2 separate regions of the Homo sapiens genome follow, and region 1 is linked to region 2. Evidence: fine-mapped expression QTL. A gene starts in region 2. The other region holds a variant in brackets. All regions are shown on one strand. Distances are between the middles of the regions. Region 1 overlaps THEM4 (thioesterase superfamily member 4). Region 2 holds the start of THEM4 (thioesterase superfamily member 4).

Region 1 (2,919 bases), 23 kb after region 2:
TACAAGAGAGCTCTAGAATGAAATTTATGCCTCAGAATTGTCTCCATCTCAGATGAGGGAGCTAGAGTCTTTATACTCTCGCATGTATTGGTCATAGGATCAGGGCCATCCCAGGGACCATAAATTTCCAAGTACTTCTAAGGGTCTCTGTGTTTGAGCAAAGCAGACTCTAGAGAAAATAACCAAAACAAGTGAAGAAAGGATCCAAGGGGCTCTGGGTGGAGCACCAACATCTACTACATAACAAAATTAATTTTTTAAAAATTTAGCTGGGCCCAGCAGTGCACGTCTGTAGTCCTAGCTTCTTGAGAGGATTGCTTGAGCCCAGGAGTTCAAGGCTACAGTGAGCTAGGATCATGCCACTGCACTCCAGGGTGGGCAACAAGACCCCAACTGTAAAAAAAACAACAACAACAAAAACACACACACACACACAAAACACCGAGTCTTTTCAGTCCACAGGCACAGATGTCTTTCCATTTATTTGTGTCTTTAATTTTTTTCATCAATGTTTTGTAGTTTTCAGTGTATAAGACTTTTGCTCTTTGGTTAAGTTTATTCCTATGTATTTTATTCTTTTTGATTTTTTTATTTTTAATTTTTTTATTATTATTATTATTATTTTGAGACAAAGTCTCACTTTATTGCTCAGGCTGGAGTGTGGTGGCATGATCTCAGCTCATTGCAACATCCACTTCCCAGGTTCAAGCTATTCTCATGCCTCAGCCTGCCAAGTAGCTGGTATTACAGGCATGCACCACCACAGCTGGCTAATTTTTTGTATTTTCAGTAGAGACAGTGTTTCACTTTGTTGGCCAGGCTGATCTCAAACTCCTGGCCTCAAGTGATCCGCCTGCCTTGGCCTGCCAAAGTGCTGGGATTACAGATGTGAGTCACTGCACCTGGCCTTAATTGTTTTCTTAATTTCCTTTTTGGATTAGTCATTGTTTGTGTATAGAAATGCAACTGCTTTTTCTGTGTTGATTTTACATCTTGCAGCTTTGCTGAATTTGTTTATTCATTCTAACAGGTTTTTGTGGAATCTTTAGGATTTTCTATATACAAAGTCATGTCATTTGTAAACAGATCTTTGTACTTCTTCCTTTCCAATTTGAATACCTTTGATTTCTTTTTCTTGCCTAATTGCTCTGGCTAGGACTTCTAGTACCATGTAGAATAGAAGTGGCAAAAGTGGGCATCCTTGTCTTGTTTCTGATCTTAAATGAAAAGGTTTTAGTCTTTTACCATTCAGCATGATGTTAGTTGTAGGGTTTTCATAAATAGCCTTTATTATGTTGAGAGAGTTTCTTTCTATTCCTAGTTGTGCCTTAGATTTTTAACCTTTAAACCCAGATTGTCATTGT[A/G]CCTCCTTTTAACAATTTTAATAGCAATTACATTGATTCTAGAGATTAATTTGGGGAAAGTTGACATATTTACAGATGGTCAATATTTCATATTAGTTATAACTATAAATTAGATTCTAGAAATCTGGGTTTTCTTAACATGTTAAAGAATATATTAAAAATTAAATTTTTTATATTTTTCCATGTCCCATGTTTTTAAAAATATTTTTCCATGTTCAAATAAAGTTGAATAATGAAGTATAACATCGTTCCTAAAAAAATAAATGTAAACGGTTACTTTGAAAACAAGCTGAAACAAAGTATTTAGATTGCTGTTTATCTCAAAAAGTGTTTGTGTCTTAAGCACATACTCAAATGCAAAATGGGAAACAGAACCTGCCAAACTCTATGCTTAGTGTTTGTCCCACCCAATAAACCATCCACAAAAATCAGTTGCATTGCTGTTCATTTGTTCCCCACAATTGGAAAACATACTGAAAAGAAGTTTTACCTGAAGTCATATGGATAGAGAGCAATTTAGTCAGAATTAGAACTCACATCTTATGACACCAAATCTGATGCTCTTCACTACAACACACAGCCTCCATTGTCTTCTGTTAGTTGATGACTAAAGACCAGAATAAAGTATTGGATTTTATAAGTAGTTTAGAATTTAATATTTATCACTCTCTGTTTTTTTGTATACAGTTATTTAGGTTCATAATAATAGTAATAATATTAAATTTAATATGATTACTTGACAGTCCTTCAAGATGCTACAGGTAACAACCTGGGATTATATTTTAATTGAAAATAATTTGCAGTGTCAATTAATCATCAGATGCCTTAATCTACCTTACTTCCTTTAAGAAGCAAGATTATTCCTTAATGATTTCAAATAATTTCCAGCCCTCTGATCCAAATATCCCACTTGATTTATTTCCTTGTGCCTAGCACATTAAGATAAATAGACAAAGCAGGTCAAACTAGTGATGACAAGCCAGCTGAAAGGGTAAATATCTCAGCATGCCAATGACCCATTCATGACACATGAGTTGAGAAGCTCCTGATTCGATTTCTTCATGCAACATGGCAAACAAGAAATGCTAAAGGACATTCCTCCTTCAAAACAAGTAGATCCTGTACCAAATACACAAGGAAAGAAACTACCAAGGGTGACTATCAACAGAAACAATAAATAAGATTTAGACCTCAGGGATCTAAGATATGATGATAATCAAATACACAATATAAATGAATAAAGTATGAGATGTTTAAAGAAATAAAAGATGAGGCTGGGCACAGTGGCTCACGCCTGTAATCCCAGCACTTTGGGAGGCCAAGGCGGGTGGATCACCTGAGGTCAGGAGTTCAAGACCACCCTGGTCAACATGGCAAAACCCTGACTTTACTAAAAATACAGAAATTACCCAGGTGTGGTGGCACGTGCCTGTAATCCCAGCTATTTGGGGGGCTGAGGCAGAAGAATCGCTTGAACCTGGGAGATGGAGGCTGCAGTGAGCCAAGATTGTGCCACTGCACTCCAGCCTGGGCAACAGAGCGATACTCCATCAGA
Region 2 (2,919 bases):
AAAAGGAAGCTGTTAGGTGAGCTATTGGTACATTAATCATATAGACAATCTTAGCAGGGTTGAAGTCTATAGGTATTGATTGATTTGACTACACTGTAAATTGTAAATAGATGCAATTTTAAGTTACCTGAATAAACTTTTCTATTCATTAACAGTAGTCATCTCAATTTTAGAGATTTACGTTATGCTCGTGCCTCCATCTGCACGCACAACATGGGAAGACAACAGACACCAAAGATACTTTGGATTCTTGCTGCTAAGTAAGTATTCAAGCACTACGTGCACGTTGTTACAATTAATAAGGCAATCTGACCCCATCCCTGCCACCAGGAAACTGCAATACTATTAATATATTAAAAAGGAAGACAACTGAGATAAAGGGAATGTGGGAGGTTGGGGGGGGTGCTTAGGAGATATCAGAATACAACCTCTTAGAATTACAGAATCTCAACAACCATCCTTTATGCCTGATCTTCGGTTCAGTAGCTCTAGGATTCCAAGGGGCCCCTCCTAACTGCATTGCCTTCTCTCCCCAATTCCCTTTCTCTCAGAATGTTACACCTTCCCCCAGTTAATAGTGTAGGCTTAAAATGTATCTAGGTGTTCTTACCTACTGACAAACTGCTGGAGTTGTTCATGGGAAAGGAATCAAGGCAAAATATCTAATGCATTCAGGTCATTCGAGTTTTCTTTTTAATTTATTGCTTTTTTGAGATGGGGCATCAGTATGTTGCCCAGGCTGAAGTGCAATAGCAGTATCTCTGCGAGACTCTGTCTCAAAAAAAACCCATTAGAGTCTTCACCTTAGGATGGACTAGGGCTATGGCATACTGGTAAGCATTTAAAAATAAAGGGGTATGATGGCCCGGATTTGCATTATCTGAGTAATGGGAATACTCCAACCCAGTCCGATTTCAAGGTCCCAGTGAGGTTACTGAATTCGAAGCTCAGAAGGTATGCGCCTAGTATTCCCACCATACGAATACAAGCGAGGTAAGTAACCTCAAAAGCATCGATAACAGTAAAATAGTTACAATACCTGTTACGCCTTTAGTATCCATTACCTTCGTTTAATTTAACTGTCAGTTTACATAACAAAAGAGTCTTTTAAGGCGTAAGCGCGCTCCTGGGGAGGGTATGGGGCTGTTGGCAGGGAAAGCAGCTTTTCGATCGTATAAATGCTCTTTGTGCCCAGACTGCCCTCTATAAATCAGCACTATCAACCCTGTCCAGAGACTTGCCCATGACCTCCAAGAAAACACTTTATTCATACTACTCCTAGCGTGCGCTCCTACCCGCCCCAGGGACTTCAGTCTTCCGGGGGAGGGATAACTACTTGGGGACACGGAGCACTGCGTACGCCCTGGGTCATGTGGGAAGGATGACCGCAAAGCCTCCAGTCGGCGCGCGGGTTCCGGGGCTGAGGGGCTGAGGGGCCCAAGGCGATAACCGGGATCCGCTCCGGCCGCGCTCCTCTTGCCTTTGAGAAGCCCCGGAAGTGGCCCGGCTGTTGGCCGCAGCGGGAGGTCTTCGGAAAGAAAAGGCCGGAACCAGAAGATAGACTCAACAGCGATGCCCTACCCGGACCCCGCCGGCCTCACACCCCGGCCAGCCAGCCGCCAGTAGTGCGCACCGCCTCCTCCCCAAGCCCCGCCCTGCGTCCACCCCAGGGGTTAACTCGCACGCGCGCTCTTGTGGCGGAGGTAGAGTGCGCCGTCCAGGGCTAGAGCAAGCGCGGCCCCGCGGCCCGGAGCCATGCTGAGGAGCTGCGCCGCGCGCCTCCGCACGCTGGGGGCTCTGTGCCTGCCGCCAGTAGGCCGGCGCCTGCCGGGAAGCGAGCCGCGACCCGAGCTGGTGAGTCTGGGCACCCTCGGGCATGGGGCGGGAGCAGGACTCAGAAACACGCCTGCGGTAACAGAGCCTTCGATTGTTATCCATACCCCAACCAGCCAATCTCAGAATAAAAGCTCACCTGGGCACCACAGGGCAGCATAAGCAACAGGGGCCTAGGAATACAGTCCTGAGATTCAAACCGTTAGAAAAGGGATGGAAAGGTGACCCCGTTTTTTTGTTTTTTAAGAGACAGGGTCGGCAGGGCGCTACCTGAACTGCATAATTTAGTCTGTCTATTTATATTTTGACAACATCTGTATTTTACCAATAATATTTGAGGCTGTTTTTATTTTTCAAAGATTAAAGTGACGTGAACTAAAAGATACCACAGCTTTTATCTTCCCTTTAAAAAAATATTTGATCCAAACGCTTATCTTCCTTTAGGTCAATTAATTAGAGATCTTTTTATAGACATCACACACAACACATATATAACTACACAGACAGGCAGAAGAAAACCCAGTTGCCATAAGATCTTTCATCACAGGGAGAGGGATCTATCTGCTTTTAATTCCTGGGGTTCCATGAGGAAAACAGAGATCGCCCCTCTTATGCAGGCATTAAAAGTGGCAAGGCAAAATGGAGAAAAATAACTCAGTCGACCGCAAAGAAACACTTTTTCCAGCAAAATAAGGTCCAAGAAAAGGAAAACATAAAGGCCTTATAAATATAATTACAACTTAGATATCTACTTTTAATTAAGCTGAGCACTCCTTAAGAAAATTCTTTTAACACCCTTATTATCTAACTTTAGCTCCACCAAGCGGCCAATATTTCTGGCTTTCAAACTTTACTTAAAGGCTCAGAGAAAGGAAAATCCAAGGTGGTTGGTGGAGGGCAGGGGAATCGACAAATAGCGAAAGGGCATACAGATACCAAACCAGAAAGGACTCATTCCCTAAGCCAGGATGAATCTGGGCCATGCCGGGCTAAACGAAGCTATGCAATGGGGTTACAGGCCACGCCCCCAAGGACGTAAAACAAGATGGAGGCCTGCAGCGAAGTTTGCTGTGGAGCATACAGAAA

Evidence for each region.
Region 1: its variant is fine-mapped to the expression of THEM4 in whole blood (TOPMed, PIP above 0.99).

The regions. Positions count from the first base shown.
Region 1 is chr1:151,885,136-151,888,054 of GRCh38, reverse strand. The region is part of intron 4 of THEM4 (thioesterase superfamily member 4); the gene reads left to right. Among named protein-coding and RNA genes, the nearest start is that of THEM4, 23 kb to the left of the region's middle. The variant A/G (reference allele first, on the strand shown) is at 1,365.
Region 2 is chr1:151,908,295-151,911,213 of GRCh38, reverse strand. THEM4 (thioesterase superfamily member 4) reads left to right here and starts at 1,703. Exons shown (of 6, transcript NM_053055.5): 1 at 1,703-1,854. The coding sequence starts at 1,756. RefSeq lists enhancers at 731-1,318, 1,307-1,426 and a silencer at 1,667-1,976.